Regions from separate parts of the Homo sapiens genome. Here regions 1 and 3 are each linked to region 2. Evidence: fine-mapped expression QTL. A gene starts in region 2. Each other region holds a variant in brackets. All regions are shown on one strand. Distances are between the middles of the regions. Region 1 overlaps CSRP1-AS1 (CSRP1 antisense RNA 1). Region 2 holds the start of ELF3 (E74 like ETS transcription factor 3). Region 3 overlaps LMOD1 (leiomodin 1).

The links.
Region 1: its variant is fine-mapped to the expression of ELF3 in coronary artery (GTEx, PIP above 0.99).
Region 3: its variant is fine-mapped to the expression of ELF3 in whole blood (TOPMed, PIP 0.98).

Annotation. Positions count from the first base shown.
Region 1 is chr1:201,508,639-201,516,814 of GRCh38, reverse strand. The region is part of intron 1 of CSRP1-AS1 (CSRP1 antisense RNA 1); the gene reads right to left. LOC124904484 (a long non-coding RNA gene) reads left to right here. Exons shown (of 2, transcript XR_007066793.1): 2 at 6,814-7,091. Among named protein-coding and RNA genes, the nearest start is that of CSRP1-AS1, 5.5 kb to the right of the region's middle. RefSeq lists an enhancer at 4,390-4,599 and a silencer at 4,750-4,829. The variant G/A (reference allele first, on the strand shown) is at 3,609.
Region 2 is chr1:202,007,237-202,015,412 of GRCh38, reverse strand. It overlaps ELF3 (E74 like ETS transcription factor 3), which reads right to left and starts at 4,826. Exons shown (of 9, transcript NM_004433.5): 1 at 4,707-4,826; 2 at 4,114-4,284; 3 at 3,235-3,456; 4 at 2,977-3,069; 5 at 2,654-2,773; 6 at 2,377-2,466; 7 at 2,115-2,231; 8 at 1,389-1,584; 9 at 1-204. The coding sequence starts at 4,276. The coding sequence ends at 90. It overlaps ELF3-AS1 (ELF3 antisense RNA 1), which reads left to right and starts at 5,060. Exons shown (of 2, transcript NR_146472.1): 1 at 5,060-5,613. RefSeq lists enhancers at 983-2,182, 2,992-3,926, 3,927-4,860, 6,587-7,228.
Region 3 is chr1:201,934,782-201,942,957 of GRCh38, reverse strand. All of the region lies in intron 1 of LMOD1 (leiomodin 1), which reads left to right. Among named protein-coding and RNA genes, the nearest start is that of LMOD1, 7.7 kb to the left of the region's middle. RefSeq lists an enhancer at 558-1,507. The variant C/T (reference allele first, on the strand shown) is at 3,248.

The DNA of each region.
Region 1 (8,176 bases), 500 kb after region 2:
CTTTCCTTCCTTCCTTCCTTCCTTCCTTCCTTCCTTCCTTCCTTCCTTCCTTCCTTCCTTCCTTCCTTCCTCTCTCCTTTCCTTCCTTGCATGAACTAGATGCTACCCTAGGCACTGAGCATACAGATATTGACCAAGATCTAATCCTGTCCTCAAAGAGTTCACAACCTCATGATTGTCCTCAGCCCCCTGTAGCAAAGGAAACTTTTATTGGGACCACTTCTTTATACCCTGAGCTATGAAGAGTAAATCTAACCTTTCTAAAGTCACATACATCTGCACTTAGTGGGGGCTCAGGTGATGGAGCTCCAGTGCTCATAAGCAAGTGAAAAACATAAGGTAGATTTAATATCTTGTAGTTCTTTAGTCCTTCTCATTGCCAGGGTGGGTCACAGAATGCCCATAGTAAAGGAAGCCAAAGTCTCCTTCCTCTTTGGGTCTCAGGGTCCAGATATTGTGTAGCTGGAAGCTCACTACTGAGACACTCAGCAGCTGCCAGGCAGGCAAACTCCCTATTTCCCACACAGCCAAGCTTGACCACCATTATTCCTGGCTCGTGCACCCTTTCCTATAAAGTTGGTGGTTGACATGGAAGATCCTGGACATTCAGGTCATAGTGCCATCAAGGGCCTTGGGCTGTCAACCTCTGCTGTGGTCCTTGATCTCACTCCCTATTCATCTCTGTGAAGCTGCCTTCTAACCTGGGGCTGTGTCTTATCTCTGACCCAGCTCTTGCTCATGCATGATGACTGCTCCCTGCTTCCCTGTATTACCCCCAAATGATAGCTGTTATGCCTTGTGGTTGCTTGTGAAACTGCCTTTGCAAAATTATAACTGAGGAAATTATGACAGTAAAGAAATCAGACCTACCTAACCATTTTGCTTCTAACCTTTAAGCTGTCCTTGTTCATTCCTGGGCATAGGTGGAAATAACTTTGCCCTGAAGGAATTCAGTTCATGATTTGACTCTAAAACAAAATTAATAATAGACCTTTCCCAAAAAGACCCTCTTCCTGCCTGGGGACCAGTCTGCCTTTGCAGGGCTAACAAATTAGCTACAAGATTCGAAATTACAGTTTAGGGGTCACGCAGTCTCTGGCTTGAAGAATCTGAACCTCCTTAAATTGTTCCTAGGGATAACACTACTGTTGTAAAACCTAAGATCAGTGCTTGAGATATCTTGCAGACCCTACACTCTGGGTGGATCAGCTGACACAACCCAGAACTGTAATCTGGCTCAACCAGTTCTGCCATCCCACCCAGGAACAGAAAATAGCACAAAAAACTCACTTCGACCCTCTATGATTCCATCTCCAACCTGAGCAATTAGCACTCCCCACTTCCCAAGCCCCTACTTGCCAAATTAAAACTCTGATCCCCGAATGCTCGGAGAGACTGATTTGAGTAATAATAAAACTCCAGTCTCCTGCACAGCCGGGTCTGCGTGAATTACTCTTTCTCCATTGCTATTCTCCTGTCTTGATAAATCGGCTCTGTCTAGGCAGCAGACAAGGTGAACCCGTTGGGTGGTTACACTTGTGTGCTTATCTTATCTCTCTTGCTACAATACAGTTTTTGTTAACTGTTGCTTTCTGGTTTGGCCCCTGCCTACTACTGTTTTTGAGGACTCAGCTTGGACACAGCATCTGGTTATTCCTGGTCACTTGCTATAAGAACACAAAGTCAATTCTCCCCCCTCTAAGAATCAGTCTTGGTAGGCCTTCACCCATGATTGCTAGTCCACTGCCTTTGCCAGCTGTGAGCTGCCATCCATCCCAGCCTCCTGTCTGCCCCTTGGAGTCCACTTCAAAAGTCATCTTCCTCTTCCTCAGCATCTTCTCTTCGAAGAAATGTTTCTCATAAGTCTTGGTGAAGATGGCTCAGTAAATACTTCTAAAACCTTATGTTTTCCCTTAGCAATGCCAAGTCTGTAAAAACCACTTTCTTTCCTAAAAATGCATTTCTGAAGGTACCATCAATGAAGATCTCTGCCTGAAATGACCTTCCTGCCAGCAGCAAGTTGTATTTTCCCCAAATGGTTGCAATAATGCTTTCCATTCCACATACTCTTCCAGAACCTTGCCACTCACACATCAGGAAATGGAGTCTCTGTCCCCTTCTTTGAAACTGGGTGGGGCTTCGTGACTGTCTCAACTAGTGGAGCACAGGGGAAGATCTGCTATGGGCCTTGCGAAGCCAGTTTTCAAAAGGCAAGACAACTTTCTCCTGCTATCTCTTGGGATGCTTCTCCTTGCAACCAGCCACCATGCTGTGAGAGAGTCCAGGCCCCATGGAGAGACCACATGTAGGGGTTCTGGCTAACAGCCTCAGCTGAGGTCCCAGCTGACAGCCAGCATCAGCCTCCAGCCACAGGAGTAAGGGAGACTCAGTGAAGAATCCAGCCAGCTCTCATTTGACTGTAATCACAGGAGAGATCCCAGCAAGAACAATCGGCTGAGCTTGGGAAAACCCTAAAACCATGAGAGAGAAAAACAAATGACCGCTCTGTTACACTACCAAGTTTGGGGTGGTTTGTTGCAGAGCAATAGGTAACCAGAATGCTGTCCATCTCCATACATTATGAGCCTAACCACCCTTTATGGCCCAGCTCATTAGCCTGTCATCTCCCATGTAAGCCTTCTCTGATCCCCACAATGGAGTTCTCTCCCTGTCTGAACTCCCGGTGCTCTTCCTGTGCCAGTCTCCTCTCCCACATCTGGGTGCACACTTCAGCTCTCCCCTCCCTGTAAAGTCTCCATTCTCCATTCATATCTCTCGGCACCTAGCCCAGTGCTTGGCACATAGTGGGTGCTCAATACAGGCTTTCTCTGTCTGGATGCGTGAAGGATAGGGAAAGGGATCTTGGGGAGAGAACATCTACCAGTGGAGAAGAGAGGGTCCTGAGTTGCAAAACAGCTTCCAGGGCTTTCAAAGGCCTTTTTCACTGACTAGTGTCCTAGGACATTTTTGGCTTCTCTGCTAAGAATGTAGGATATGAGTTAGAGTCAAAAGGATTTATGAATAAGTATCAAGTTGTCAGAGGTGTTTGAGCTGGAGCAACTCCATCTTGTGTAGGGGATGTGTAAAATAAGGCTGAGACCTACTGGGCTGCATTCCCAGACGGTTAAGGCATTCTAAGTCACAGGATGAGATAGGAGGTCAGCACCAGATACACATCATAAAGACCTTGCTGATAAAACAGCTTGCAGTAAAGAAGGATGCCAAAACCCACCAAAACCAAGATGGCGACGAGAGTGACCTGTCCTCACTGCTACACTCCCACCAGTGCCATGACAGTTTACAAATGCCATGGGAACGTCAGGAAGTTACCTTATATGGTCTAAAAGGGGAGGCATGAATAATCCACCCCTTGTTTAGCACATAATCAAGAAATAAGCATAAACATGGGCAAAAAGCAGCCCTCAGGGCTGCTCCGTCTATGGAGTAGCCATTCTTTCATTCCTTTACTTTCCTAATAAACTTGCTTTCACTTTACTCTATGGACTTGCCCTGAATTCCTTCTTGCGTGAGATCCAAGAACCCTCTCTTGGGGTCTGGATTGGGACTTCCTGTAACAAAGGGCTCCTTGGAAAGAAAGGATTGTCCAA[G/A]CTGAGGGTTTTCTTAGGATTACAGTGTATGGCCACTTGGGGGAGCCGAGGTGCGGCGAGGTGTCTTTCACAAGTTCACCAGCAGGTGGCAAGCTTATTCGTGGTTTCTTGCAAACTATGGATTTATCCACGCACACATTCATAAAATACTGAGCACCTACTCCATGTAAGGCTCTGTGTGGCTACAAAGGAGGGTAAGCTACAATTCCTGCCCTCCAAGACCTTCCAGGTGAGTGAACTCAATGTTTCCTTAGCTTGTCTTTGGGTTGAAATAGTTCTTCAAAAGTCATCCAATCCTTTCTTCTGTCAGTGTAATTTAATATAATCGACCCTGATGGAGGAGAGGAGTCAAGAGTCTTGCCAAGGCCGGGTGCAGTGGCTGACGCCTGTAATCCCAGCACTTTGGGAGGCCGAAGTGCACGGATCACCTGAGGCCAGGAGTTTGAGACCAGCCTGGCCAACATGGTGAAACGCCGTGTTGCAGGGTTTCTACTAAAAATACAAAAATTAGCTGGGTGTGGTGGCGCATGCCTGTAGTCCCAGGCTGGGAGGCTGAGGCAGGAGAATCGCTTGACCCCAGGAGGTGGAGGTTGCAGTAAGCATAGATCGCCCCACTGCACTCCAGCCTGGGCAACAGACTGAAACTCCGTCTCAAAAAAAAAAAAAAAAAAAAAAAAGAGTTTTGCCGAAAGTCTGGTTATTTTCAGTCTACTTCACTGCTTTAAGTAGATTGGCCAGGTGATCATAGATAAGATCAGAGCAGTGAAGGTGGTGTGGCTAGGGACCAGGAGAACAGGGAGAAAGAGATTTTAAAGCAGGAGGAAAGCAAACTGATCAGTAGATTAGGAGCTGGCGTGATTGGAACTGGGCCTGTCAGAAAAGCCTCTCCTGAGCCTTCAGCCAGCTCCCTGTGGCCACACTTCCCTAGAGCCTGTCAGGCTCGGAACAGTGGAGCCATGCACAGCCAGCTGCCCGGGAGCTCCCTGCCGCCTGCTCCCGCCCTGAGTCCCCAGCTCCTCCTGCTTTCCCCTCCCCACACTTTGGCTGTGAGAGCCACTCCACAGTTTTGCCTGTTTGGGACAGAGGCAGTGGCTGCAGAGGGAGCAGGAGGGAAGTGACCTTACATCAATTTCAGGCCAAGGGGAGGGGAAGAGGAAGTGGTCATTTAAAAACCTATCTAGACTGTTTCACAGTGTTCTTAAGGACCCAACCCTGAGCCACCCCAGTGCATTTCTGAATATCACCTTTCAAGCTCCCCTGGAGCTTCACAGTGTAAATTTCAGCCTGAAAATCAGAAGAGATTTCTGGATCAGGAACCCCCTAGAGTTTTTATTTTGTTCCTTTCTAAATGGATTTCTCCTTTTCTTGCCTCTAAGCATTTTATTCTTATAACATGTATACACTGCCTTTTCCGATTTTCATTTGCCTCTGGCTGCCAAGCTCATTTCTCCAGCAAACCCTGAGAGATTCTAGGAATCTTCCTTAGAAAACATGAATACAGGGACTGAAAGCAAATGCTGGGCCTTATTCCACAAGCCCCCTTTGACTTGCCTCATCCTAGCCTAGGCACAGCCGAACAGTGCCAGAGCCAGGGAGAGCCTTGCAGATCACCCACGTGGGTAGGCGGGCCTAGTCATATTCCCAGGGGCCCACAGAGATACTACCCACCAAGCACGATACATTTCCTAAGAACTCCATTTCTCTGAACAGTAAGTAATTTTATTTATTTATTCATTTATTTTTTGAGACAGGGTCTCACTTTATCACCCAGGCTGGAGTACAGTGGAGTATAGTACGGCTCACTGCAACCTCTACCTCCTGGGCTCAAGCGATCCTCCCACCTCAGCGTCCCTAGTAGCTGGGACTACAAGCATGCCACCATGTCCAGCTAATTTTTGTATATTTTGTAGAGACTGGGTTTTACCATGTTGCCAAACTTGGTCTCAAACTTCTGGACTCAAATGATCCACCTGCCTCAGCCTTCCAAAGGGTTGGGATTACAGGTGTGAGCCACCGTGCCTGGCCAGTGAGTCATTTTAAACATTATCTTTTTATGAAGACAAATACAGTTATGTGCCAAGGAGAATGCAAAATTCAAATAAATTTTTGCAATAAACCCCAAGACTTCAAGGACTGGGAGTGGATTGATTCTGACAACACTGTGGGTTCCTTACATTTACTTCTTTGCTGTCAGAGGTACCTCAGTGGAAATTTTGGAGAATACTGAGTTAGTCCAACCTCCCATTTCACACATGAGGAAAACTGAGGCCTAGGCCATGGTCACAAAGCTACTAAGTTAGCTACTGCTGTAAGCCCTGGTCTCCTCACATGCAAAGCAGGGGGTAAAAATAGTCCTTACTTCATACAGCTACTGCGAAGATTAAAGGGGACAATTGTGTAAAGTACCTGACAGGTAGTAAATGCTTAATAATTATAATTATTCCTCATTATCAACAGTATTTTATTTGTTTTTTGTTTTTTTGAGACACAGTTTCACTCTGTCACCCAGGCTGGAGTGCAGTGGTTGGATCTCGCCTCACTGCAACCTCCACCTCCCAGGTTCAAGCGATTCTCTTGTCTCAGCTTCCACAGTAGTTGGGATTACAGGCACATGCCACCATACCCGGCTAATTTTTCTATTTTTAGTAGAAATGGGGTTTCACCATGTTGACCAGGCTGGTCTTGAACTCCTGACCTCAAGTGATCTGCTGGCCTTGGCCTCCCAAAGTGCTGGGATTAAGGCATGAGCCACTGCGCCAGCCATCATTAGTATTTTAAATCATAGATGACAGAGCTGAGACTCAAACTGCAAGTTTAGGGCTGGATTTTTTTTTTCTTTTTTTAGACCATTAGATGAGTAAACTTCTTGAGGTCAGGATCCAAATTATAGGCTTCCTTGTATTCCCAGAACCTAGAGACCAGCACAGAGTGGGGCCCCAATAAATGTCTTCTGAGTGAATGGTTGGATGGATACATGGATGAACAGGTGGATGGACGGATGGATGGATGGATGGATGGAGGGAGGGATGGATGGATGGAGAGACAGATGGATGAACAAATGGATGGATGGGTGAATGAATGAATGGATGGATGGACAGATGGATGGAAGGATGGACAAGAAGATCTCCAGCCCAGACTGGATCTCTAATTTCTCTGGGATGATGAGCAGAGCTAAGCCAGACACATTCCCTTACTCTTTCCTCAGCCTCACACTCAGGTCCTCTTCACTTGGGATCAATGCGGAAAAGAAGGGTTTCACCACAGGAGAGGAGAGAGAAGATGTAGCATCAGGATGCTGATGAGGGAGGAAAGAGAAGAAAAGATGCCAGAGGAAGCAGCAGACAAAGTTGGAAGCTGGAGGACAGGGGCCCTACTTCCTGCCTGTAACAGGCCCCACTTCATTCCTAGCAGCCATCAAATACCAACCCAGAAGTGTTGGGAAATAGAGTGCACAGAGAGAACATAAAGATACTGAAAAGGTTAGACATTTGTGAGAGTCCTGAGAAGCAGGTAAGCCCCTAAGTGTGCCAAGCCTCCTTCTAGAACCCCTAGCAGATAATTTATTGGTGATGAGCTCTGACTGCATTGTCTCTGCAGATGTGGGTGCTGCTGACCAGCTCGGGCCAGTCTAGATATGGTTATATAAATGAGGTCAGCCAGAATGAGAACCTCTGCAGAATGAGAATCTCTGCCTTAAGGATGTCCCAAGTATTGATGATGTTTACTGATTTTTCTGTCATTTCAACATCAGGCTTGTTCCTGTTTGCATGGTGGGTAACCCCAGCATCACCTTTGACTCAACTCAATCCCAAAGCCCTTCCTCATCCCTCAAGTCTTCTTTATCTGCAAATGTGCTATCTAAGACCAAGCCCAAGTAACTGGCAGCAGGCTGGGAGAATAATATAGTCAGAAGGTGAGAGGTTCTGGAAAAACACCAAACAAGGCAGGTCCTACTTGGCTTCATCTGTAGCTCTGCGTAGACAGCTCCTAAGACAAGTGACCTGACAGTCTTTGGGTGGAAAAGAGGGGTGACCATCTGCCCTGGACTGCCTGAGATAGTCCTGTTGCCTTAGTGTAGTTACGAATACTACCACATACCACTTACTATCCAAAGCATTCTGGTTTAGATGACACATTGTACAGCCATTCTGTTTATAAGGTGCTTTAAGATCTGGGAGAAATCCAAGTGTGACTGCAGTGACTGCTCTTCTTTTTCTGGATCTACCCTAAAGCCATTTCACAGCACAGGTTGGCATGTCCTCACAGGGAAATCTATCAACAGTCCCATGACTCCAGAGAGGACAAACCCAGACCAAAGAAGGTAATGTAGGAGTTTGCCCTTTTGTAAAATCCTGGGCAAAACTCCGAGGCTCATCTCTCCAAGATACTGAGAATTGAAAGGAGAGGGGGAAATCCCATGGGATCGCCATCTTTGGGCGGAAGCCCTTGGTCTCTGACACTGATGGTGGTTCTGCAGTTTAATGGACCTGTTTAACTATTGCTTAGTCAGTGCAGCCGTGACCAGAAATTCTTCTGGTTTCTCCTCCTTCATCTTGGTTGGGTCAGAT
Region 2 (8,176 bases):
GGAGGGGCCATCTGGCCTGCCTGTCCTCCCAGGAAGGTTTGCAGGCCTCGAGTGGTCCGTGAGTTTGGTCCCGGGTATAGTTCCAACCCTCAGTTCCGACTCTGGAGAACCTCTTCCTCCTTCCAGCCGCTTGAGTTTTTGCCAAACTTGTAGACGAGTCGCCGGCCATCCACCCGTTCCAGGATCTCCCGTTTGTAGTAGTACCTGGGTGAAGAGAAGGATGGTCAGAGGTGCTTTGGCAGGAAATGGGCCCCAGGCTGCCAGCCCGCCCACCTGGCCCGCGTTACCCCCAGGTAACCCATGCCCACTGGTCTCTGCCTGACTAAGCTGAGCCTGACTCACACTTCCTAAACTCCTCTGTTCTTCACACTGGCAAGCAGAAGCTCTTTCCCTACACTGGCCTGTAACCGTGCCCAGGACACAGGGCTCTTTGCCTTTGCTTCTTTGTATCCTATGGCTGTGACTGGGGTCTGATCATTAAATTACATGACTTTTAAGGCCAGGGAGCTGGGCACGGTGGCTCACACCTGTAATTCCAGCACTTTGGGAGGCTGAGGCGGGCGGATCACTTGAGGTCAGGAGTTCGAGACCAGCCTAGCCAACATGGTGAAACCCCCGTCTCTACTAAAAATACAAAAATTAGCTGGGCATGGTGGCAGGTGCCTGTAATCCCAGCTACTTGGAGGCTGAGGCACAAGAATCACTTGAACCCGGCAGGCAGAGGTTGTAGCGAGCCAAGATTGTGCCACTGCACTCTAGCCTGGGTGACAGAGCGAGACCCTGTCTCGAAAAATAAAAAGAAGAAGAAGAAAAAAGAAAAGGCCAAGCATACTGGCTCACACCTGTAATCCCAGCACTTTGAGAGGCCGAGGCAGGAGAGTCATTTGAGGCCAGGAGTTTGAGACCGGCCTGGCCAACGTAGAGACCCTTGCCTCTATTTAAAAAAGAAAAAGAAAAAAAAAGTAAGTACATGATTTTAGGGCTGGACGGGATCTTAAGATGATCTAGTGTACTCCTGGACACAGGAGGAAACTGAGGCCCAGAGAAAAACAACCTAAGTGCTTCAACGAGGAGAAAGCCAGGCCCTGGGTGGGCACGGCTCCTGCCCCCTTTCCCACTCTCCAGGTGCCTTCCTGAGGACAAGCCTCACAGGCGATACAAGAAATGTTGCTGCTAGCTCAAGTGCACTGTGTCTGCTGTCTGCCAGGCTAATACTTTCTCCATGTTGTCATTTAATCCATGAAGTAGACCAACCCAGATGTTGTCCTCACTCTAAGGACTCAGCCCTGTTGCAAGAAGCCAAGTGGCAGCCAGAAAGAGGGCGGTGGGAGTGTGAGCGCCTGTCCCCATGTCCGGCTGTATCGTGAGGGTCCTGGCCGCCAGCTCACCTCATGGCCCGGCTCAGCTTCTCGTAGGTCATGTTGCTGTTCTTTTTCTTTTGGCCCCATAGTTGGGCCACAGCCTCGGAGCGCAGGAACTTGAAGACGCCTTCATGCCGATTCTCCCACTTCATGAGGCCCTCGTTGAGCTCCGGGTGGATGAGGATGTCCCGGATGAACTCCCACAGGTGGGTGCCTCTGGGCGCTGCAAGGCCAGCCTCCATCAGTTTGCCATCCAGGTGTCCCCTCTCACCCAAGGCCAGCCAGCCCTGCCCGCCCCAGTGCACTGCTGACTTGGCCACAGCATGCAGCAAGCCTCTCCAGAGACCCCGCAGTGCCCTCTGTGCGGGTACTGCAGTGACTGCTTTTCTCCTCAGCCCACCTAAGACCCACCAGCTGCCTCCTCACATTGAGGGTGTCCCAGAGGGCAGGACAGTGGCCAAGTGCAGAGAGAACTGGAGTCAGTGGACAGGACACTGGAGTCAGTGGACAGGACTCTGGTACCATGAGCCTCCCACTGGGAGCCTTATTTCCTCCTCCTCTCCAGGACCACCAAGCCAGGCTCTGCAATTAGGTGGTGACCGATACCATAGAGCCCCCAGCTTGTGCACAGCCTTACCAAAGGCCATGCGGAGGCCAGAGAAAACGGGAGAAGGGATACCTGCAACAACCCGCAGTGCCCCAGGAAGCCGCTCAGCCCGGCGCAGGGAGGACCCACGTGCCCCCGGAGCTCACCGTGCTTGCTCTTCTTGCCCTCGAGACAGTCCCAGTACTCTTTGCTCAGCTTTCGGGGCCGGCCTCGTTTCCGCTTCCCGTGCTTGGGATCCCCCTTCTTGCAGTCACGAAAACCATCTGTGGGGACGGTGGTGGAAGGTCAAGGAGGGGCAAGAGGGGAGTTAGGGAGAGTAGCCCCTCTACAGGAAAAGGCTGCAGGAAGAGCCGGGCCCCCTGTGCATTGCTAAATGGGACGCCCTCTTGGGGACCTCCCTCGACTCACCGCTGGGGAAGAGCTTGCCATCAGTGGGATCCAGGTCCACGTCACTTCCACCGGAGTCTGAGGAGTGGGAGCTCCGAGAAGCACCAGTCCCTGGGGGGCGGGGTCAGAGTAAGTCCCCTGCCGGCCCACCCTCTGCTCAACCACGCTGCTGGCTCTCAGGACACACTTCCCAGCCTGTTCCTGTTCCTGCCAGAAGGCCTGAGTTATGGTGCTGGGAGCCAGAGGGAACAAGGGACACTTCGGGGAAGGGAGGTTGTGGCCCAGAGAGAGCTCTCACCTGCGGTGGAGACGTCAGAGCTGCCAGGGGAGGGGGCTCCTGCGCCACAGCTGCCGGGGTGGTAGGGGCTGGCTTGCTGACCGTCGTCCAGCAGCTCCTGGGCAAAGGGGCTGCCCTGGTCTGGGAAGAGGAGGTGAGAACTCAGAGAGGGCTCAGGGGACCAGACCAGGACAGGTGATGCTGCCCATGGGTCTGATGACCTGCTGCAATTTTTCTAATTGAGGGAGGAAGAAGTCTGGGGAGGGGGTCATCTCTAGCACTCTGTGGAGGGGCAGGGATGGGACAAGACAGGCTGGGGAAGGAAGGAGAAAACGGGTTCTCACCAAAGGGCCCTGGGTCTAGGGCCTCCTGGAAGGCCATGCCATCCTTCTCCAGCAGCTCAATGATCCAACTGAGCTCATCAGAAGAGCTGGAAGCTGACAAGGAAGGAAGGAAGGGTCACACTCCCCTAATCCCTCCCTCAAGGGCTCTCTCTGGCTGTGCAGCTGGCCCAGAGCTCCAGGGCCTGCCTACGGCCACACTGAACTCGACTCAGCTCAACATGTGGAGCTGCTCCCCAGCCTCCAGGGGCCTGGACTCACTGAGGTCTCGCAGCTGGGCATGGAGTTGGTCCCCCAGAGGCCCAAAGACCAGACGCAGCTCCTCAAGGGCACAATTGCAGAGGGTGGCGCCATCCATGTCACATCGTGAGAAGTCAATGGCGCTTGCGTCGTACTTGTTCTTCTCCACTTGGTAGCTGATCCAGTCCAGAACCTGCGTCTTCGACCAGAACTGGGGCTGTTCCCCCAACCAGCTGGCCTTCTCTGCAAGGGCCAGGCAGGGAAACAGGCTCAGCTCAGGCCACCCAGCAGACCTTACAGCCCCATTTTTTTTTTTTTTTTTGAGATGGAGTCTCACTCCTGTCACCTAGGCTGGGGTGCAATGGCACAATCTCGGCTCACAGCAACCTCCACCTCCCAGGTTCAAGCGATACTCCTGCGTCAGCCTCCCCAGTAGCTGGGATTATAGGTGCCCACCACCACGCTGGGATAAATTTTTTTTTGTATTTTTAGTAGAGACGGGGTTTCACCATGTTGGCTAGGCTGGTCTCGAACTCTTGACCTCAGGTGATCCGCTCAGCTCAGCCTCCCAAAGTGCTGGGATTACAGGCGTGAGCCACCACTCCCAGCCCACACAGCCCCATTCCTGGAGCACACTGGGGATTCACACCTCAGCCCTTGGAGCCATCCCAAGAGTAGGGGCAGGAGGTAGCATTCACAACACCCTTGTCCTGGTATCTGACACCTCCCTCTGCCTGTCACAGCCCCACAACCCCCAGCACCTCAGTCACTAAGTCTCAGCCTCTAGCCCTGGAATTTGCCTAGAGACCCTCCTCCCTGCCTATTCCCCCATTTGTCTAACAGGCCCTTAGATGGATCTGTCTCCCACTCCGTGCCCCATCCCACCCCGCTGAGACCCACCTGTACCCTCCAATGACATCTGGGGGTTGCTCAGGGTCAGTACCAAGTCATCGGCCCCAAAGGTGGCAGCAGGGGGAACAGAGGCCAGGGTGGAGTCCTCCGAGCTGTACATCGCACTGAAGTAGTTGCTAAAAATGTTGCTAATCTCACAGGTTGCAGCCATGAGGCTACCTGTGGGTAGGGGGAGAGAGGATGAGGTTGGTGAGGGGACGAGGGTCCTCTCCTTACACTCCCAGCTACTCTGCTTTGCCCAACCCTGGGCAAGAGTAGCCCCCAGGGGCAGGAAGATCAGCAACTCTGCGGACACCGTCTCTTCAAGAAGGGCTCCAAGATCTCAGACCAGGGCAGGACCACAGGAGCCTCCAGCTGGGCTTCCCTCCTCAGATCTCTGGGGCCCTGGAGCCAGACTAGCGGCGTCATGGCCATTCTGCCTTCCCAGAGACAATCTCTCTCTGTTCTTTGACCCTCAGGACACCTACGCTCTTGCTCGGAGATCCTAGACTGGAGTGTGCAGGTTCAGAACTGCAAATCCTCTGGACCCCTCTGCAGTTTCCCAAGAGCTGGGCTAGGGAATGACAGGCGGGGAATCCTACCGGAGTGGCGGAGTCCGGCTGTGGCAGGCAGGCCGGCAGGCGGGAGAGAAATCCAGTTCCGCCAGGTAGCGCTGAGGTATCTGGCCGCTGCGCTCCCCTACCCGGCTCTAAATAGAGCCTGGAGGGAGCTCCTCCCTGAGCTCAGGGCTTTATAGTGTGTCCCCTGCAGTAACCTGAGCTGGTGTCTCATTGGATGGAGGGGATTTCCTGGCCTTTAGACTGGGCTCCTGGCCCCAGGTGATTTGCATATTCAGTGCCACTTGGCCCGGATCTTAGCAGGCAGTGCTGGGAAATCAGGCCCGGCTGGTTTAATGATTGTCAGAGTCTGTCATCCCGCACCCTCTGGGGTTGGGCACGGGGCACTGGCCTGGGCAGGTGGCGGGAACGTTGCTGGGGTGGGCATCTGTGCTTTCGGCTGCCCTCTGGCCCAGGAAATTCCTCCCAGGGGCCAGGCCAGAGATGGGCCAGGCAGGGGGAGGGCAAGTGAGGGAACATGAACCCCTGGCTGACCTGAGTCAGAAAGCTGCTGGCCCCTAAATTCCAGAGATTCAGCAACAAAGAGGCCTAGTAGGGAGAGGAGTTACTAGGTTTAGGGGTTTTTCCCAGAACACCCAGGACTCTGGCCAGGGGCTGGAAGGTGCTCCAGGCTCAATGCTGGGCAATACTCATGGATTAATTGGTGCTGGCTGGGCCTGCCAGCCTAGTCGTGGCCCCAGGGTCCCCACTAAAGGGCTCCTTCTCCAGCGCCCACTCTGTTGGCAAGGTCTTCACTACCATCACCTGCCTGGACTCCATCCAAGCATCAGGGTTGCTGCAGTCGCTCCTGAAGAGACCCGGCTCTGCTTGAAAGTTCTTCCCTCAGCGCCTGCTGGAGCCCTCCCTGCCGGAGTTGCCAGAATCCACACGGGTAAGTTCATCCCTGCTCTCTGGACCCCATCTAATCTCTGGTTCACTCGGCCCAGTTTTCCAGTACCTTCTGCTGCCCTCTAGTGGTCAGAAGCCTGACTACCTGGGTCACGTCATTCAAAGAAGAGGGAATGCATAGTATTAATATATTTACCAAGCACTTTTCAACATATTCTCTCATTTAATCCTCACACCAAAAAAGTCCTGTAAGGAATGCATGGTTATTCCCATTTTATAGACATGAAAGTTGCAGTGTGGAGGGTTCCCTTAGAATGGCTTGCCCAGGCCACACAGAGTTGGTGAAGGGGTGGAGCTGAGATTCACATCCAGGTATGCAGGTGTGTTGTACACAAAACCCTCGCTCTTTCCCTGCACAGGATTCAATGTCTTCGGGCTTCAGAGTCTTCCCATCCAGCTCCATGGCCAGAGCCCTTGCCTTCCCTGTGGGCAGAGTCCCCCATGTCTGTGGTTGTCTCTATGGACTCAGCCCGAAACACAATGGATAGTGTCTTATAGACCCTTCTTGAGACCCTGAATGGGGTAATACAGGTGGTTGAGGCAGGAGACTTGTAGCCAGCATCTGCAACTGTGTGATCTTGGATGAGACCCTTGGAGTCTGTGCTTGTTTCCCCATCTATAAAAAATGAGGTTGTCTGAATTTAATAATCCCTAAGATCTCTTCCAGATCTAGTATTTTGTTTATTTTGTTTTGAGGTGGAGTCTCGCTCTGTCGCCCAGGTTGGAGTGCAGTGGCGTGATCTCTGCTCACTGCAACCTCTGACTCCTGGGTTCAAGCGATTCTCCTGCCTCAGCTTTCCGAGTAGCTGGGATTACAGGCGCCCGCTGCCATGCCCGGCTTTCTGTATTTTTAGTAGAGACGGGGTTTCACCATGTTAGCCAGGATGGACTCGATCTCCTGACCTCATGATCTGCCTGCCTCAGCCTCCCAAAGTGCTGGGATTACAGGCATGAGCTACTGCGCCCAGCCCATATCTAGATTTTTATGCATTTGAAATGTAGGATCCGGTGGCTCACACCTGTAATCACTGCGTCTCAAAAAAAAAAAAACAAAAACAAAAAAATGTAGGATCTGTGTGACCCCCCTCCATTAATGCACAACTTGGGGAGTTCCTGGCCACCCTCAGCCAGGGTGGGTGAAACGGTTACTCAAACAAAAGGTGACTCCACCTTCTACAGATACTTCTTTCTTTAACTCTATAGCCTGAGGACTAAGAAAGTCCTGCGCAGAGAATCTGCTTCTTACCTTACCTTCTTCCTCTCTGAAGCTCCCAGGTGCCTAGGAGAGAGTTAATGTCCAGGATCCCCCCGCCCCCCCGCCCCCGCACTGGGCCAGTGCAGGCAGGAGAGCCTGGGGCTCAGTAGGATTTTCCCCAGCCCTTCAGGGGGCCTCCCCCAAGGAGCCTGAGGCAGGCACACCCTCCACCCAGTCCCTCACCCAGGAATGTGGGAGAACCGGCTTCTAGCCCCAGGGCTGCTCACGTGCTCCCTGCCCTGAAGAGCATCTGGCTGGGGCTCCCGGGATGGCGGGGTGAACAGGAGGATGTACGAGAAAAATGAGAAGGCTGTCAGCTCCCTTGCCTTCTTGGGGCTTCCTCACCGCTGACATGGAGCTGAGATAAGGAATCCCTACAGGCTGGCAGCTTGAGATAAGTGAGAAAGACTTGGATTTGAGGTCAGTGCCTTGGAGGCATGGGGATGGGGGTGGGGAGAAGGTTCCAGGATAGTGGTGAAGAGAGCTATGGAGCAGGATGCCAGGGGCTTCCCAGTATTCTGTGATGGCAAAAACAACCCACTGGCCTCCCCTCTCCCCACAGAGCTTGCCCACACGGCAGCACAGCCTCATCTTTGGGATGGGAGAATGTCCTACAAAAGGACAGGCACATCCAGTAGTCCTGTCAGGTACCAAGGTGGTGAGTGAGGCAGGCTGCACAGCTCAGGATACCCACGCTATGTAATGGGAGACCCCACAAAGTTAGTGGAGTCACAGCACGGCTGTTAGAGGAAGGGCTTCCAGCCTTTCCTTGCACTGACCCTTCATGATTACTGGGCCTATTGGTGCTATAGGTTTTTGTACAGAGCAAGGAAAGATAGCTACTGATAAGCTAGATAAAAGGTTGGGGAGAGGGGGAGACAACTGGATAGCCCTAAAATAGTCCTTGCCAATAACATATTGCCAGGAACAGTCCTGAAAGAGCCACGGAAGCAGTTTGCTGTCAAAATGCCAGTGCCTGGAGAAGCTCTTCCGATACCGGGCCTCCAGATCCCTCACCTATGACCCACATCACCCTCTCTGATGGTGGAGCTGTGTGCCACGGGGCAGAGGCCTCTCCAGTCTACCACTTGGTCACCACTAGTCCCTTGCTCTTGCTGAGTGAAAGCAAATCGACTCATTCCCAACCCTTGTGCAGGGGAGGGAGGAAGCCTGTTCGATAACCTAAATCCGAGGACAGAGCAGAGCTGCGAACAAAGCCTGTTTCAGGGGTGCCCTGTATTTAAGAAAGGCAAATGAAACACACTAAATATTTCTTCCAACCCTCCCCTCA
Region 3 (8,176 bases), 72 kb after region 2:
ATTAATTTCTTTTAGGTGTGATAATGGCATTGCAGATATACTTTTTAAAGGATTCTTTTCTTTTAGACATAAATACATAAATATTTATGGGAAAAATTTATTGGCTTTGGGAATTAGCCTTAAAATAATCTGGGTGGGGGTATATATAGATGAAACAAGATTGGCCACCAGTTGACAATTGTTGAAGCTGGGTGATGGGTCTACATGGGTGTTCATTATATTATTTTTTCTACTTTTGTATGTATGTTCGAAAATTTTCATAATAAAATTTAAAAAAAAAAAAGAAAGAAAGAAACCAACATTGGGAGGTTGGCCTTAAGACAGTCTTAAGGTCTGTCTTTTCCCCAGAAGGACAGCCCCAAGATGCATACTCTGGCTATTGTGCAAAGTGAGTCTAGGCTGCCAGAGGGCCCTTGGCCTGCTTCTCCCTCCAGGGTCTCCCTCCAAGGGATGGGATATTCCAGAGATCCTCCTGATTGTTTACCATCTTTTTCATGAATATTCCACCCTTGCCTCTTCCAGGTCAACTCCTATTTGTTCTGCCTGTCTCAGGTACCACTTCCTCCAGGTAGTCTTCCAGGACTCCCTCAAGGTCAGGCACCTTGTCTGAGCGCTCCAATACCAGTCTGTACCAAAGCCCTTGGGACATGACTTTTGTATAATCATCTGTTTTCTTGGGCTGTCTCACTCACCAGCTTGTGGGACTTGGAGGGCAAAATGCAAATGCAGGGCCCAGCACACAGCAGGCCTTCAGCCTCTGTTTGTTGAGTGAATGTTAGCAGGGGATTGGGGAGGGTAGAGGTGGGACTTGGAAGAATTGACCCCAGCTTCTCTCCCTCCCTTTAAAGGGCCAGACCTGTCAGCCAGTGTAGCTCCGCCCTAATCATCCGGGAACTCTCCTTCAGCCCAGGTAGAAGACAAAGCCCCTGGGCAAGCTGTAGCCAACGGTTCAGTGAAACTCTTGTCCTTGTCTCAGGTTTCAGGAACCGGATCCCAACCGGTCAACTTGTGTGTCCTCTTTCCTTCCCAAGTGGGAAAGAAAATCTCCAGCCTGCCTCCCCCTCCCTTCTCCCTGGTGTTAGCAGGGGCTGGGGATTAGCGCCTGTACCCAGCCAGGGTCAGGGCAGCTGAGCTGGTGGGGGTGGAGGAAAGCTCTCCCTAGAGGTAAACTCGAGAAGCAAACCCGAAGCAACCTACTAATAGCGGCTGCTGGGCCTGAGCCCTCCTGACCTTCCACTCCCACTGCCTGCACAGCCTCAGCAGCCCCCTCCCCCATCGGTTCTAGTTCACAGCTCAGTGTCCATGGTATCTCTACGGGGCCGGGAAGGCCCGAGGCCGGCGGCCTAACCCTCAGAATGCCCTTTGCAGAGGGTTGGGACCTATCAGGAGTGCACTGAGCAGCACGGCTCAATGCTTAAGGAGATTAACCCCAACTGGTACACACCCAAAATAGCCCTGGAGGCTAGGGTGAAGAGGGCAGAAGAGGTGACGGGGGCCTGTTGACCCAGGGAGGCAAAAGCAGGCACCGGAGAGGGTTAGACTGTTAAAATCTCGCCCTGAAATTTGAAACTGCCTCCATCCAGAGTTTGAAAAAGCAACTGCTTGTTTCTTAAACTAGGTGGTACAATCCACAGGTGTTTGTTTTAAATATTGTTATTATACGTTTTCTTCTGTATGTATATAATATTTAAAGAATTTTGAGGGCAGGTGTGATGGCTAATACCTGTAATCTCAGCACTTTGGGAGGCTGAGACAGGAGGATCACTTGAGTTCAGGAGCTCGAGACTAGCCTGGGCAACATAGCAAGACCCCATCTCTAAAAAATTAAAAATTAAATTAAAAAAAAAGAATTTTACCAGCCTGGCCAACATGGGGAAACCCCATCTCTACTAATAATACAAAAAAAAAAATGGCCAGGCACGGTGGCTCACACCTGTAATCCCAGCACTTTGGGAGGCCAAGGCGGGTGGATCACCTGAGGCTGGGAGTTCAAGACCAGCCTGACCAACATGGAGAAACCCCTTCTCTATTAAAATACAAAATTAGCCAGGCATAGCGGCACATGTCTGTAATCCCAGCTACTAGGGAGGCTGAGGCAGGAGGATTGCTTGAACCCGGGAGGCGGAGGTTACGGTGCGCCGAGATCGTGCCATTGCACTCCAGCCTGGGCAACAAGAGCAGAATTCCGTCTCAAAAAAAAAAAAAAAAATGCTGGGCGTGGTGGTGCATGCCTGTAGTCCAGCTACTTGGGAGGCTGAGGCAGGAGAATCACTTGACCCGGGAGGCGGAGGTTGCAGTGAGCTGAGATCGAGCCACTGCTCTCCAGCCTGGCTGACAGAGCAAGACTCCATCTCAAAAAAAAAAAAAAAAGACTTTGAGCAAGTGAGGCATTAGTGCCTGCTCCCACCCTCAGTGCTGCCCTCTGGGTGCCTGCCTTCTCCTTACTGGGACAGTAGGTATAAGAGCTTGGTTAGGCCGGGTGCCGTGGTTCATGCCTGTAATCCCAGTGCTTGGGGAGGCCGAGGCGGGTGGATCACGAGATCAAGAGATCGAGACCAGCCTGGCCAACATGGTAAAACCCCATCTCTACTAAAAATACAAAAATTAACTGGGTGTGGTGGCGCATGCCTGTAGTCCCAGCTGCTCGGGAGGCTGAGGCAGGAGAATCCCTTGAACCCAGGAGATGGAGGTTGCAGTGAGCCGAGATCGTGCCGCTGTACTCCAGCCTGGCAACAGAGCAAGACTCCATCTCAAAAAAAAAAAAAAAAAAAAAAGAGCTTGGCTGGATGGAAAATGCAAGAGGGAGGCAGGACAGATGGACAGGACCAAGGAGCACTTGTAAAATAAGATGGCTCACCAGTGAGAGCGGGATATAGATGGTTAAGAGGTGGGGTCTGAGTCCCACTAACCAAGGGGAGGTTGCTCCCAGCATCAGAGAAGGCTGGAGGCTTCAGGGATTCTGGGAGCTTCATGGTCCCCAGGCTGGGACAAGAAGGTGAGGACAAAGCCCCGGTCTTATCTGTCTATCCTCCTTCAGTCTCTCTTTCTCTCCCCCAGGAGACTTTAGAGTATCTTTGTCAGACCGTGTCAGCATATCTACAGCTGGGCCCAGAGTGTGCAGAGCCTGAATGAAGCACACCAAGAGATAGGCAGTCTACACACATGTGTATACACACACACACACACACACACACACAGCAGGAGCAGAGGAACAACACACAGCGCCATGCATGGGGGACAGGAGTGG[C/T]GACGCTAATATTTACATGCCTGCCAAGTTGGATAAACAGGAATATCCTGAGCCATAGAATGCAGGCCTTTCCAGATCAGGCCCTTCCTTATTTATTGGACCACTTTTGTTTAACCAGCAAAAGAGCAGTGGTCTCCATTCGGTTCATCAGTTCTCCCAATGGCTTGTTAGTGTCTGGGCAGTGCGGTGAGACAGAAAGCCCAGGGGTGTCTGGAATCAGATAGGTCCAGGTTTGAATTCTGCTCCTGCCCCTTACTGATCCAGTGACTTGGAATAAGTTACCCAAGGAAGAAAGAACATTAACTTGATTGAGTGCCTTCTGGAGCCAAAGGCTTTATCGATGCTATCTCATTAACATAGCTTCTTGAGGCCCAATTACTTCACCTGTCAAGTGGGGATGATAAAATCATCCTTGAAGGGTTATAGTGAAGATTAAATAGGATGAGGCATTGAAAGTGTTTGGCACATCACGAGAGACCTTCTTTCCTCACTCTAAACTCTTCAGAGTTTGTACCTGTATATCTGCCAAATCAACATTATTTTATCTCTCACGAAATTAAAAAAAAAAAAAACCATCAGTGAGTGTGAAGGAATGATGAAGAGAGAGGGGAAGGGGAGGAAGGAAAGCAGGGAGGCAGGGCTTATGTAATTACTCGCTGCCTGGCCCCAGCAGCCTGATTTCTTTGAGCCTCTGCCTAATTTATTTTATGTCACAGGCTCAGGGGCCCAAACTGAGTTGCTGGGTTGGAAAAAGACAGAGTGAAAGGAGATTAGGAGAAGATTTTGAGGTGGATTCTCCTTGTCTGCAGGCTTCCACCCCAGCACAAGCTCAGAAAAGCCAAGGCTGCTTTGGGAGAACTTGGCTTCAGCTGTCCCTGGGGCCCACTGCAGAAAGAACAAGCCGGGTTGTCGGGATGCTGTTTACAAACAGCTAGGAATAGAAGCACCTCCTGTTCCCACACCCTTCCACCACCCTTTCATGGACAGCCCACAGGCTCCTTCTGATTGTTACTTCAATAGGCCTTCCTTTGAGATCAAGCCGGCAGGGCTGGCAGGACCCCTGTCCCTGAGACTGGCAGGTGAAAGGTGCTACATCCTCAGGCAGAAATTCCCAGGGAAGCTCTGAGTGCAGACTATATGAGTCTAGTGGTTAGAATAGTCTCCTCAGGGGCCAGCTAGACCTGGGTGCAGATCCAGCTCTGCTGGTTGCTGGCTGAATGACCCAAACAAGTGACTTCACGTCTTGGAGCCTGAGTTTCCTCACCTATAAAATGGAAATTACGGCCGGGCGCGGTGTCTCATGCCTGTAATCCCAGCACTTTGGGAGGCCGAGGCGGGCAGATCACCTGAGGTGGGGAGTTTGAGACCAGCCTGACTACCATAGAGAAACCCCGTCTCTACTAAAAATACAAAATTAGCCGGGCGTGGTGGCACGTGCCTGTAATCCCAGCTACTCGGGAGGCTGAGGCAGGAGAATTGCCTGAACCCAGGAGGCAGAGGTTGTGGTGAGCTGAGATGGTGCCATTGCACTCCAGCCTCGGCAACAAGAGCGAAACTCCATCTCAAAAAAAAAAAAAAAGGAAATTACAATGCTTAGTCATAGGATAGTTATGAGGTTTCAGCAAAATAATCCACATAAAGCACTAAGCAGAGTGCTGGGTTGGAAACCTAGTAGTAAAGGCCCATGAACATTAGTTTCCTCCCTTCCCTTCACTCCTATCCGCTCCTCCCATTCCCATTCTCTTCATTCGTTTTATACACAGAATTCATGAATCATGCTTTATGTTTACAAGGAGGGAGGAGGACTCCATTAAATCATTAATTTGCCAGCTCTTTAATGAGTTCCTATTATGTACTTTCTAAATGCCAGGATAGAGTAGTGAACAAGAGAGACAAGGTTCTTGCCCTCATAGAGGTTACAGTCTATGTTTGTTTGTTTGTTTTTGAGACAGGATCTCACTCTGTTCCCCAGGATGGAGTGCAGTAGCATGATCTTGGCTCACTGCAACTTCCATCTCATGGGCTCAAGCAATCCTCCCGCCTCAGCCCCCAGAGTAGCTGGGACTACAGTTGTGCACCACCATGCCCAGCTAATTTTTTTGTATTTTTAGTAGAGATGGGGTTTCACCATGTTGCCCAGGCTGGTGTCGAACTCCTGGGCTCAAATGATCTGCCCACCTCAATCTCCCAAAGTGCTGAGATTACGGGCATGAGCCACTGTGTTTTTTGTTTTTTTGTTTTTGTTTTTTTTTGTTTGTTTGTTTGAGACAGGATCTTACTCTGTTGCCCAGGCTGGAGTAGAGTAGTGCAATCTCAGTTCATTGCAGCTTCAAACTCCTGAGCTCAAGGGATCCTCCTGCCTCAGCCTCCCAAGTAGTTAGGACTACAGGTGTGTCCCACCGCGCCCAGATAATTTTTAAATTATTTGTAGATACTGGGGTCTCCCTATGTTGCCAAGGCTGGTCTTGAACTCCTGGGCTCAAGTGAGCCTCCTGCCTTGGCCTCCCAAGTGCTGGGATACGGGCATGAGCCACCACACCTGGCCAAGGTTACATTTTAATGGGTGAGACAGACAATATATATATTTCCATATGCAGATCATATGTAGCATGCATACACATAACATGTAACATATGACATATATCTTCTAAAAAAGAGTAATGTCAGTTAAGGGAAGAGTATATGACATATCAATGGGAGACCACTTCCAACAAAGTAGTCAGGGTCTTCACTACCAAAAGAGGTGACATTTGAGCAGATTCTTTTTTTTTGAGACAGAGTCTCACTCTGTTGCCCAGTCTGGAATGCAGTGGCGCAATCTTGGCTCACTGCAACCTCTGCCTCCCAGATTCAAGCAATTCTCCTGCCTCAGCCTCCCGAGTAGGTGGGATTACAGGTGTCTGCCACCACACCCAGCTAATTTTTTTGTATTTTTCAGCAGGGAGGGGGTTTCACCATGTTGGCCAGGCTGGTCTCGAACTCCTGACTTTGAGTGATCCACCAGCCTCGGTCTCCCAAAGTGTTGGGATTACAGGTGTGAGCCACCACAACTGGCCCATTTGAGCAGATTCTAAATGGACCGAAGGAGCTAGCCTTGGGAAGATGTGGGGAAAAGCTTTCCAAGCAGAGGGAACATCAAAGACACAGGCCCTGGGGTGGGGGCAGGGTTAGCATGTCAGAGGAAAAGCCAGGCCCCAAAACTAGAGCAGGAGGAGTGGGGAAGGAGCCTGGAGGAGACGAGGCCTTGGAAGTAAGCAGGGTTCCGATCATGTGGGGACTTTTAGGGCAGCAGAGTTTGACTTTTTATTCTAAGTGCCATGACTTTTTATTCTAAGTCATTGGAGTGTTTTGAGTAGGGGAGAGATGTGATCTAATTTATGCCTTTAAAAGGCTCATTCTTCCAGCTTTCAGATAAACAGACTGTAGGGGGGCAAGAGTGCAGAAATGAGACCAGTTAGAAGGGTGTTTCTGTCTCTCAGGTGAGAGCTCAAAGATGGTTTGATGAGAAATGGAAACTGGCTGATGCACTGGGGGAAAGAGAAGAGTCGGGGTGATCAGTACTGCCTAAGCTATTGGGTGAATTTGATGTCTTTTTTTTTTTTTTTTTTTTTTTTGAGACAAGGTCTGGAGTGCAATGGTGTGATCTCGGCTCACTGCAACCTCCGCCTCCTGGGTTCAAGTGATTCTCCTGCCTCAGCCTCCTGAGTAGCCAGGATTACAGGCGCCTGCCACCACGCCCGGCTAATTTTTTGTATTTTCAGTAGAGACAGGGGTTTCACCATGTTGGCCAGGATGGTCTCGAACTCATGACCTCAGGCAATCTGCCCACCTCGGCCTCCCAAAGTCCTGGGATTGGCCAGGTGTGGTGGCTCATGCCTGTAATCCCAGCACTTTGGGAAGCTGAGGCGGGCAGATCACTTGAGATCAGGAGTTCAAGACCAGCCTGGCCAACATGGTGAAACCCTGTCTCTACTAAAAATACAAAAATTAGCTGGGCGTGGTGGTGGGCACCTGTAATCCCAGGTACTCGGGAGGCTGAGGCAGGAGAATCGCTTGAACCCAGGAGGTGGAGGTTGCAGTGAGCCAAGATCATGCCACTGCACTCCAGCCTGGGTGACAGAGTGAGACTGTCAAAAATAAATAAATAAATGAATAAATAAATAAATAAAACTAAAGTGCTGGGATTACAGGTGTACAGGTGTGAACTACCATGACCGGCCAAATTTGATGTCCTTTACTGCCATGGGAAACAGCAGAGAAGGAGTGGTTTTGGGAGGTGAAGAATTCTGATTTGAACAAGTTAAGTTTGTTGTGCTTAGTAGACCCCCAAGGGGAAATGTTGGGTTGACAGGGGTTGCACTCCAGATCTTGTCTCAAAAAAAAAAAAAAAAGGACATCAAATTCACCAAATAGCTTAGGCAGTACGGATCACCCCGACTCTTCCCTTTCCCCCAATGCGTCAGCCAGTTTCCATTTCTCATCAAACCATCTTTGAGCTCTCACCTGAGAGACAGAAACACCCTTCTAACTGGTCTCATTTCTGCACTCTTGCCCTCCTACAGTCTGTTTATCTGAAAGCTGGAAGAATGAGCCTTTTAAAGGCATAAATTAGATCACATCTCTCCCCTACTCAAAGTCTGGGGCTCAGTGGGAAGAGGGGATGGGAGATTAAATTTGGGATTCATCAGTCTGTGGATGCTACTGAAAGCCATGAGCCTAGAAGAGATCACTTAGGGAATAAATGTGAATGGAGGAGAGCAGAGGGCTGAGGCCCCAGCCCTTCATTATACCTACATTTAGGTGTTGGCAGAGGAGAAGGAGCCAATGAAGAGACTGAGAGGTAGAGGAAATTCAGAGTGGTTTCACCAAATCAGGTGAGAAAGGATTTCCAGAAGGAGAGAGTACTGTACCACATCCATTCTTGCTGAG